Linked DNA regions of Homo sapiens: region 2 is linked to region 1. The links come from fine-mapping of genetic effects on gene expression. A gene starts in region 1. The other region holds a variant in brackets. All regions are shown on one strand. Distances are between the middles of the regions. Region 1 holds the start of TM9SF3 (transmembrane 9 superfamily member 3). Region 2 overlaps TM9SF3 (transmembrane 9 superfamily member 3).

Region 1 (5,379 bases):
TGCCCACCTCGGCCTCCCAAAGTACTGGGATTACAGGGGTGAGCCACTGTGCCTAGCCCCCATACCTAATAGTTTTGATGATCATGTTTACCCAGAATGAAAATAAAAGACTGACATTTTGGTTTTCTGGATTGCTTGCTGGTCATAAGCTCTTTAACCAAAATGGAGTCTTATTAGAGCTACCATAGAAAAGAGGCTGTATAGCCACTGGGGGAGGTGGGAAATGCCTTTCACCGGCATTTTCTCCCCACCGCTGCCATCCTTTTTGGTGTCAGGGAATGAGGTCATTCACCCAGATGAAATAAGTGGTGAAATAAGGTATGTTAATGTTTTTCACTCCCCAGTTTAGTGAAACAACCCTAATTTTGATGGTGACCTGAGCCCTGTTTTGTCCTGTTGAGGTCATCAGGCACCTAGGATCTTTGAAGCCACACTTCTTTTACTCTAATCAGTTACTTTATCTCCCTTTCCTTCTTTCCACACCTACTGCTGTCAGACTTGTATCACCTAATGCCATTTATCAGCATAATTCCCCTAGTACCTACCAGAGTGCCTGGTACATAGTAGAGGCTTAATAAATAATCGTTGAATTAATGGCTCTACCTGCTCTTCCATCCATTAAATTTTCCCAAATACTCCTCTGAAATAGGGTTTCTTTCCACTTCTCTCATTGCCCATTGCTTTTACTGCCTGTTGACCATTTGCACAGTTGGCCAGCTTTTGTGTTCCTTTTTAAAAGTACACTGTCATGCCTGTTCTTTGTTGTGTGTGTAGTTTCCTGGTTTTAATCTATCCTCCCTAAATGAATATACTTTTTCTTGTGTCCTCCCTACCTCCAAGCATTTGCCAACCCAGTCCTCCCCAAAACACCTGCCACATGCATACTACCTCAAATCTGTGGAGGGTGGTGATGGATACTTAAGAAACTACACATCCATCTTAATGTAGCACTTACACGGCTTGTTCTTCAATTGCACATCATCACTTCATTCAAGAGCAGTGATTATTCATTCACAGAATTGACTGAGCTTTCACTATGAGCAAGTCACCCTGCTAGGTGCTCGGGAGGATATACAAAGATGTATAAGATGCCTCCTCTGATTTCTACAGCAATTACTGGTGTATGATTCATTCAGCAATTAATCATGTACTGCTTTGTGATGTTTCTTACACTATCTAGAAAGCATTCTTCAAATCTTGCTATGCTATTTGACTTTTCACTTGTTAATGTCTTCATTCATTCAGCAAAGAGTTGAATACCTATGATGTGACAAGCACTATCTCAGCAGCTGGGACAGATATAAAGACAAACAAATCATAGTCCCTGCAATCAAAAAGGTCCGAATGCAGTGTAGAAGAGGAAATGTGAATAGATAATTACAACACAACACGCCAAATGCTATTGAAATCCCAAAGAAGGAATGCTCCATTTCTCAAGGGATCATGCAAGGTTTCACTGAGGAGGTGATCATCAGCTAGGTCTGAAAGGATAATATCTAAGGCACAAGGTGAAGCAGAGCATGCCAGATAAAGGGAGTATAAAGAGCAAAGGCACAGAGGTGTAAAAATATATACGGGTGAATGCAGAGCATAGAAATTGGTGGAAGGTAAAGTTAGGGAAATAAATTAGGGATAAAATAGGCAAAAATTTGGACTTTATCCTTTAGCAGGGAACTTTTTTTCTGATTACATAGTTAGCACATGCTCACTGTAAAAAATAACCAAACATTTATAGGCATGTACAAAGTAGAAAGTTAACCACTGATAGTAGTTTGTTATAATCTTTCAGATTGTTTTCTATGGGCAGACTAACATATTGCCATATAAAATGAAGTTAAACTCTTATTTTCTTCAACTTGAAAATTTAACAGAACCTCTTGGTTATCATTCCATGCCAGTACTTACCTATTTCCTTTTTTTAAAGTGGCTGTATAGTTGGTAAATCATTACCAGCAAAAAGACCTATTATGGAGCCAGACTGAGTGGGTCTGGTGTTTCAGCAAGCCACTCAAGCTCTCTGTGCTTCAGTTACCTCATCTGTAACAGGAACATTTTCACCGTACCTGCTGCATAGGGTTTCTGTGAGAATTTAATGAGCCAATATCGTTCAGAATAGTGCCTGGCAGATGAACGCCCTCGTGGTGACTCCATGATTTATTTACCTAACATTGAAGAACTGTTTTAAGCAAGGGAGTGAGCGATATAATCTGGTTTCTTTTTAGAATAAAAAAAACATCACCCTGGCACCTGTTGGGGATGTTAAACGGGAGGAAGATCAGTCAGTGATGGATATCTTCTTGTGAGACTCTTGCAATACATAGTGATACGGAAGACTGGTTGGTACTGGCAGAGGAAGGAGAGGAAAAATAAACTCTTGAACCACTTTTAAGAGACCAAATGCTAGAACTTGTTGACTGCTGATGGCTGAGAAGAGACAATCTGACAAGTTCGAGATTTTTGGCTTAGTGGCCTGTGTAAATGGTGGTGCCACATTCGTATATTTTTTTTTTTTTAAAGATTTTTTGTTTCAGTGTCTACTACGGATCTGGCACTGTTCTAGGTACAGGAAATACGGAAACAGGATCTCTGCTCCGAGGAGCTTACACTCCAAGAGATATTTATGACTGGGAAGAGGAGACCCAGAAATAGTTAAGTAAACACATAAATGAACAAGAATGGCAAGCTAACTTAGCATGTCTTGATTGAACAGTAGGGGTCCAGTAAATATTCAGTAACTTTAAAACATCCAACCCTGTACGAGTTTAACAATCTCTCCTAACGGTGATTACAGGAGCCCGTGATTCATTCACAGCGGCAGACGAGCGCCAGGAAAGGGTTATTTGATCTGATCCCTCAAGTTCCGGAGGCAGCAGGTCAGACGATCGGCCCCATTTGGCAGCCAGGAAAAAAGCTTAAGCATTTTGGCCAAGGTTACACAACCCGAAACACCGGGACGCGGCCCGGAGGCGGCTTCGGCCTTGCGGTCCAGGCTAGGCCACTGCGCCGGGGCCCAGCCTGCTCGGCGCCCGCCCGAGTGCTCGGCAGGCCCGTAGCGCCGCGGCTCCCAGGAGCCGAGGGGCAGCCGGCGCGCAGGCGGCGGTTGCCGGGCCCTCCCTCGGCCCGGCGGCGGTGGCGGCCCCGCGTCGCGAGGCACTTCCGGCGCGTGCCGGGGTGGCCGGATGACGTGGCTGAGTCAGAGGAAGAGGCTGAGGAGGCGCGGGGGGCGGGGGAGGCTCAGGAGCGGGCGGTGACGGCGACGGCGGCGGCAGAGGAGGCAGCGGCTGGGCCGGGCCCCGTGCGTCTGTCCGCGCCCCGTGGATGCGAATCGGCCGCGGCGGAGGCGGCGGCGGCGGAGGAGGCGGCGGCGGGAGGAGGAGTCGGTGAGCCGGCTCCGGGCCGGAGGGGCGCGGAGGATGAGGCCGCTGCCTGGCGCTCTTGGCGTGGCGGCGGCCGCCGCGCTGTGGCTGCTGCTGCTGCTGCTGCCCCGGACCCGGGCGGACGAGCACGAACACACGGTGAGGCGCCCCGGCCGGCGCGGCCGCCCCGGGCTAGCTCCCCAGTTGCCCACTGAGGCAGGCCCCACGCAGCCTGGAGTGCCCGGCGGCCCGGTGGTGCCCCACTGCGGCCCGAGGACTCCTTCCGGTTGGGCCTGGCGGAGCAGGAACCTTGGGAGCGTGGAGGAGGCATTTCCGTGCGCTCCCGGGACAGGGCTCCGCTCCCGAGTGACAGGGTCTCCTTCCCCCGGTCTGGGCCTCAGTGGCGCCGCACCCCAGGGTCTCGGGGTTCCTGGGACCCTGGGGCCAGGAAGGAGCCTGGGAAGGGTTGAGGTTCATCCACCGCGGGAGCGGGGCAACGGGCAGGCTGGGCTCGGGGCTTTTGCCCCCCAGGGAAGGAGACTGCCTTCTGGCTACTGAGGGCTGCGACGCCGAGGAAGATGGATGCATCGTGATTACCCGGCAGCCACTAACCAGGAAATATCCTACACTTTATGGTCTCCTTTGGCTTTTATCGCCCGCTTCTGCCCAGACCGGATTAAAACCCTGGGGTGGGGCAGCATTAATAAACTTGAATTGAAGAGCAGTTTATACTTACTTGTAAGTGCACCCAACCTACACGCGTTCAATTCCTAGGCCTTTCTTGTAACTTTCTCCTCACCTTCCAGCCCCTAAGTGAGACCCCCATCCCGATAGTCTCTAACTAAGGCAGCTTCTGACAGTAAAGGGTCTTGACGTTTCCCAGTCTTCAGGTCAGGGCCAGAAACAGTCCCTTTTGCATTTGGCCTAAAGGTGATTGGCAGTTTGTTTAATTGGTATTCTCACATCAAAACGTGCATGTGAACGACTCTTCAAATGGCTTTCACTTAGGGCTGTAACTGTGGTTTTCAGAGTGGTAGACTTGAGCAAGGCAGGAAGGTCAGGTAAATTGAGAGTTTGCTTGACGAGTAATTGTTTTTTATACCTTTACCATTAATGATAGGAGTTTCTATGAGAGACTGTGTTTGTACTAAATCAGAACGATCTGAGGGAGTCTTATGTCATTTCTGGTAAGTGAGGAAATGAAGCAGTCGTCCTTACCTATTTAATGGATCCGATTTTATTTGTAATCAACAAAACTTTTCGCTGGATCCTTGGCTAGCTGGGATCTTATTTTAGCTAATAAAAGCTCTAAACTTTTGACTGTTCTACCTTCGGTCACAGCCAGAAACTTCTTACCTGTGTAGGTATGTATTTCTTTAGAGACACAAATCTCGAATTGGTGACATGTTTTTGTACTGTACTTGTGGTGTTTCACCTAAGATAATTTTGTTGGGAGGTTAAACAGCTTAAAACGATTTCCTTTTGTGTTCTTTCATCAGATAAGCTGTCTCAAAGTTTAAGAACTGCTATTGTTTCACATAGTATACAGGGACCATGTATAGATTTGGGTCTTTGAGTATTTTTAAATTTTCAGTGGGCATCCATCCTTCTGTTTAATGATATTATTACTAATATATTTCCAATTAAAAAAACACTTAGGAAAAGTTACCATATGAAACTCAGAACTCTCAATGTGTAGTTCCGTGATACAGGCATATAAGCTCAAAAGTGTACTGTATTCTACTTTTTAATCTTGTAATCTTGTGACTTACACTGCTGTGATTAGGGAAACCATTAAAATTTTACAAATTGGGTGTATATAAAGGCTTTAGAATAATTTACAAATTAAAAGTGTAATTTCAATGCAGTTTTATTGCTAGGACTATTTCAGTTTTTTATTCTAGTAATTGCATATAAGATATTTGATAAAAGGTTTTTGTTGACTGCCACGAAAGATAATATGGTATATATGAGATGGTTGCTAGACAAAAAATTTAGAATCCATATTACTTCATGTCTATAT
Region 2 (5,379 bases), 29 kb after region 1:
AACTGTCAAGCTATTTCTGTTGTCTTAGGCTTAAAAATAGTAAAAATGAGAGAGAAATTCAGTGTAGGTAGCCTCTGCCAGTTATTGCCTCATAGCTGGAATGAGTCCATTGCTAGTAGTCAATTTTGAAAGTTTTTCAAGCCTTGTGCATATGTACCTGATGCAAATAATCCTTATATAACTAAACTTAATGAAAAAATTTTATAGTTGTAATAAAAGTAATGCAGTCTAAAAATAAAGATTTACAGATTTTTTTTTATTATTCATTCAAATATTTATTGAGCAGCTAAGGAGATACGAAGGTGATTCAGAACATGGTCAGAGGAGAGGCGAATGTGCAAGTAATAGAAAGCAAAGGGCAAGGTTCACTGAATCACAGCAATCAGAAGAAACTGCTTTAGGGAACCAAGAGTGAGATTGTTTCCAGCCTAAAGAGGCATCCATGGCAGATCAGAAAAGGAGATTGAGATTAAAATAGAAGACTTCAGTCTGGATTGTTGATGATACTCAGTATGGACTATATTTGTCTCTCCTTTTCTTTTCTCCCCATCTTTGGGCTTAATTTACCAGTAGTGCCCTGAACTGTTCAATGCACTTTTTGTATACTTGCTTGCATTTTTGCTTTAATGTTTTCTACAGAACTAGGTCCTTTTGGTGTTTTAGGAATTTTTTTTCCTGTTTTTGAAGGATTTTTGTCCTTTTGATCTTAGTGTTGATAGTTTTGAGTCTTTTCCATTCTGATTTGACTTTTGTGCATTTTTGGCTGGATTATCTCATGTAGATTTCTTCACTGGTGGTTTTTCTTTAGTTTCCTCATCAAAATCGTCATCATCATCATCATCATCTTCATCAGCAGCAAGTTTTACTTTTTTCTGTGGAACCTTGCTACCACCTCCAGGGACAGATCACTTTCCAGATATCCTTAAGAATTTCGCCTCCTCCTGTTCATCTTCTGATTCTGCATCTTCCTCCACAGCTACTAAATGCTGTCCACTAATATACACTGGCCCTGAACCACACTTCAACCATAAAAGCACTGGTGGTGTGATTTCAAAGCCCCCAAGGGAAACCGTTGGCTGTGCAGACATTTTCAAAGGTGCCAGTGTTATTTAATTGGACTGCCTTCATAATTCATTGCCTCTGCTTCAACAATATGCAATTCATCCTTTGCACCAGCCCCTAAACTGACCGTTCTTAAAGATAATTGGTGCTCATTTTCATCATTATCCACCTTAAAGTGATCATCTTTGTTGGCCTTTAGTTCACAACTGAAAAGATAGTTCTGGGGCCTCAGGGGGCTCATGTCCATGTCCATCGAATCTTCCATGGGGTGGCAGCACGCATTTAGGTGGGAAAGAAGGCAGACGGAGATAAATGACTTCTGCTCAAGAGAACAGCCACGCAGGACAGAATTACACCAGGCAGATGTACAGATTCTTATTTTAATTGATTTAGACACTTGTGATATGAGCTTATACTAATTCAGTTCATATCACATTTATCAGGTCATAATATGTAAGTCAACAAAAGTAAACAGTCCTTGAGAACTGAAATCACCCCTCTGAGGAAAGTTGTTAAGTTTTGTCAATAAACAGAAAAGTTGATTAGTTTTATCATAATCGTTTCCACTTCTCATGTTGTAAGTAACTTTCCTCCATTTCTCTAGTGAATTTTAATTCTAAGTGTGTGTAAATCTATATTTTGCTCAGAGTTTTGTCATCAGATTATTAATTTGTTTACTGGCCTTTATTTTCAAATGAAAAAATTTTTTTTAGGTAAAATGGAAAAAGTCAGATGTGAAATTTGAAGATCGATTTGACAAATATCTTGATCCGTCCTTTTTTCAACATCGGGTAGGTAAATAGTGTATTTTAAGACATTGATTATGTGCACCAATTCGTTCAACAAACATTGAGTATCTGTCATTTGCAGGGCACTGTGTTGAGGACTGTGGATTAAAAGATTTAGCTAATGGTGATTTAAAGTATGAGCTTGAAATCATAAGGGTGATGGGGAGTTTTAGAGGAGCAATCAAAAACTTCCTTCTTTGTGCTTGTGGTTTAAACCAATTAAGAGATAAACGAAGAATATAACATACGGGAAGCCAAAATATCACTAATAAGGTGAATATTAGATGGCTGCGTTGCACAATGAATAGCGCATTGGCCTTCTAATGAGGTGAATATTGGAGAATGTGGCTTATATCTATCTGTGATCAAGTGGGCTTCTTACTACTGAAACTCAGAATTAGACTTAACACACTCAGAGAGTATATTATAGGCTTCCCTACATGGGCACTTGCCCTTATACAACTTACGGTGTGAGAAAGAACAGAATGTATGCATCAGAAGGAGGTAATGAGAGAACGGATTGAGATCAGGAATTTCTGCTTGTGGAAATCCTTCCATGTAGAAAGAA[A/G]CATCAAGAATGGGAAGAAATGGCCTCCCAGTTCCCCAGCCCCCACCGACAGATACTTGCTGAATTTTAGTTCATAAAGCCGGTAGCATTAGTGTTGGTTTTGTACAGGTAGTTTTGATTCTTTATAGCAAAAATCACACTTTGTTTTGGTGGTTTCCTCCTCAAGGATGGAGATAAAAAGACAAGGCATAAGGGTATCCCTTCTTCTGAATTTCTTCCTGAATTGTTGCTTCTTTCTTTTGATCTAATCTTTTGGACTAGAATTTTAAAGTTTATTAATCACCTATTTTTGAGATGGCCCGTAAGTTTTTGTTGTCTCAGATTTACATATTACTGTTAGGTTCCATTCTTAGACTCTACCGGAACCTATCACTACTTCTGATCTTACTCAGGGGTCAGAGATTTTAACAATTAAGCTATTTGGAATTTAGTCTTTTTTTTTTTTTTTGAGACAGAGCCTTGCTCTGTCCCCTGGGCTGGAGTGCAGTGGCATGATCTTGGCTCACTGCAACCTCCGCCTCCTTGGTTCAAGCGATTCTCCTGCCTCAGCCTCCCGAGTAGCTGGGATTACAGGCACACACCATCATGCCCGGCTAATTTTTGTATTTTTTTTAGTAGGGGTGGGGTTTCACCATGTTGGTCAGGCTGGTCTTGAGCTCCTGACCTCAAGTGATCCACCTGCCCTTAGCCTCCCAAAGTGCTGAGATTACAGGCGTGAGCCACCGCGCCCTGCCTGGATTGTCTTTACTGAAGGATTTAGCATACTACTCTTGGAGCTAAAATTTTTCCCCTACCTCAATCCCCACCTCAACCCCACCTGCTGTGTGTTCTCCTCGAGTATAATGCTCAGGCAATCTTCAATAGGGTATGGACACAGATAATTTCAAGATTTAGATAACATTTGAGAATATGAAGGCTCTTAACTGGCACTCACTACTGGAACTCTTAGGTCTGCCTTGATTCTAGCCCCACTGGACATTGACAACTTAGGGGAAAGACTGCCTTTTAGTATTTTCACTATGGAATGGTATACTGTATTTATTACTTCAACACATATTAATTGAGCACCTGCTATCTGCCAAGCACTGTATTAGGTAAGTAGGATACATTAGAAAATAAAGGCAAAGATCTATACCCTCTAGGAACTTACGTTCTAGTCAAGGAGACGTGAAATAAACACAATAAGTAAAACACACTTTATTCAAAGAGAAGTGTGTCAAAAAAGAAAAAGTAGACAGCAGAACAAGAGTACCAGGGGTCGGGTAAGTTGCAGTTTTATATTATGTAGTCAAGGTAAGCCTCTGAAATGGATTGTTGAGCAAAAGCTTGAAGGAGTTGAAGGAAATAAAGAATGTGGATATTTAGGGGAAAGAGTATTCCAGGTGGAGGCAACACCATTGAAAAGCCTATTAAAGTGAGGATATGCTTACTGTGGTTTGAGGACTAGCAAGAAGATGAAGTCAGAGAGGTAGCAGGAGCCAGATTATCCATGGTCATTTTAAGGACTGCAGATTTTACTCTTAAATGCAAAGGGGGCAGGGGAGCACTGTAGTGTTTTCAGCAGGGGGGTAACAAATCTGACTTTTGTTTTTAAAGGATCAAATTATTATGTGGGTTCAGGAAGTCAAGGGTGGTAGCAGGGTAGGTGATGAAAAGATGTTAGATTGTGAGTATATTTTGAAGTTAAAGCTGGCGGCATTTCGTGATTGATAGGAAGGTGAAGAAGGGTTGAGACAAACTCTAGGGTTTTCAGTCTGAGTGGAGCTGACATCACTGGGGCTGTATTTGGAGGAGATTTAGAGGGGAAGATTAGGGTACAGTTTGGGACATGTTCGTTTTGGTGTGTCTGTACGATATCCAAATGGAGATATTGACCGGCAAATTGGATATATCAGTTCTGGAGTTCAGGAGAGAGGTCTGGGCTAGAGATACAAATTTTGCAGCAATTGGCATATAGATCATATTTGTGGCTATGAGACTGGATGTAATAATTGCTAAGGAAGGGAGATGTAGAGAGAGAAGAGGACCAAGGACTAAGCCCTGGGTGCAGTAGTAAGAGTTTAGGAAGAACAGGGGAGTTCAGTTAAGGGCTTTGCGGGGGAGGGGAAAGTATGGTGTTCTGAATGCCAAGAGAAGAAAGTGTATCATGGAGGATAGAGAGATTAGCTCTGAATTTTTGCTGATGGGTCAAGTAAGATGAGCACTGAAAAGTGACTATTGGATTAACCTGAAGTCATTGGTGAACTTGACAACGATTTTGGTATAATGGTGGGGCATTCAGAACCTGAACAGAGCTGCTGTAAGAGAGAATGGGAAAAGAGGAATTGGAGACGGCAATTATGGACTTGTGAGGAGCTTGGCTGCTAAAGGGAGCAAAGAAATGGTGCAGTAGCCAGTGTGGAAAATGGAATTAGGAGATTTTTCTTTCTTTTTTTTTTAAATGTAAGAAAAACATTAACTTTATATGCTGATGGGGTTCAGTGGAGATTGCAAAACTGGCAATGCAGGAGAAAAAGGAGAGAAATACTGCATCGTTTTCCTTAAGTAGAAGGAAGGGATATGATGTACTGTACAAGTATAAGAATTGCTTCTAATACAGTGACTAATAGCACAGGCAAAGGAGCTAAAGCTGAATTCAAACTGATGCTTTGCCGCTTACTATGACCTTGGTTAAATGATTCAGTTCTTCAGCTTCTGTTCCCTTAATAGTGAAGCAAGGATTATAGTACCTTGCAGAGCTGTTGGGGAATTTCACGTTGATATAAAGCACCTAGTTCAGTGTTTGGCACATAGCAGGTAAGAGGCAGTATTGTTGGTATAGTTATTTATCTCCAGTTGCATTCTAAATTTATGACAAATTGAGGGTGCAGCTTCAGGATTAGTGACACTAGAGGGTGCTGGCATGCAGCATTAGTAGGGTTAGTAAACCCCTTTGTGACACCAGGTTTCTTTATTTTTAAG

Evidence for each region. PIP is the estimated chance that this variant, and not a neighbour inherited with it, causes the effect.
Region 2: its variant is the best candidate, but not a certain one, in a credible set for the expression of TM9SF3 in whole blood (TOPMed, PIP 0.74).

The regions. Positions count from the first base shown.
Region 1 is chr10:96,584,870-96,590,248 of GRCh38, reverse strand. It overlaps TM9SF3 (transmembrane 9 superfamily member 3), which reads left to right and starts at 3,237. Exons shown (of 15, transcript NM_020123.4): 1 at 3,237-3,515. The coding sequence starts at 3,414. LOC105378443 (a long non-coding RNA gene) reads right to left here and starts at 3,185. Exons shown (of 3, transcript XR_946220.4): 1 at 1,906-3,185. RefSeq lists silencers at 1,004-1,073, 3,008-3,577 and an enhancer at 2,070-2,129.
Region 2 is chr10:96,556,133-96,561,511 of GRCh38, reverse strand. TM9SF3 (transmembrane 9 superfamily member 3) reads left to right here. Exons shown (of 15, transcript NM_020123.4): 5 at 1,776-1,853. It also overlaps the pseudogene NPM1P26. Among named protein-coding and RNA genes, the nearest start is that of TM9SF3, 28 kb to the left of the region's middle. The variant A/G (reference allele first, on the strand shown) is at 2,419.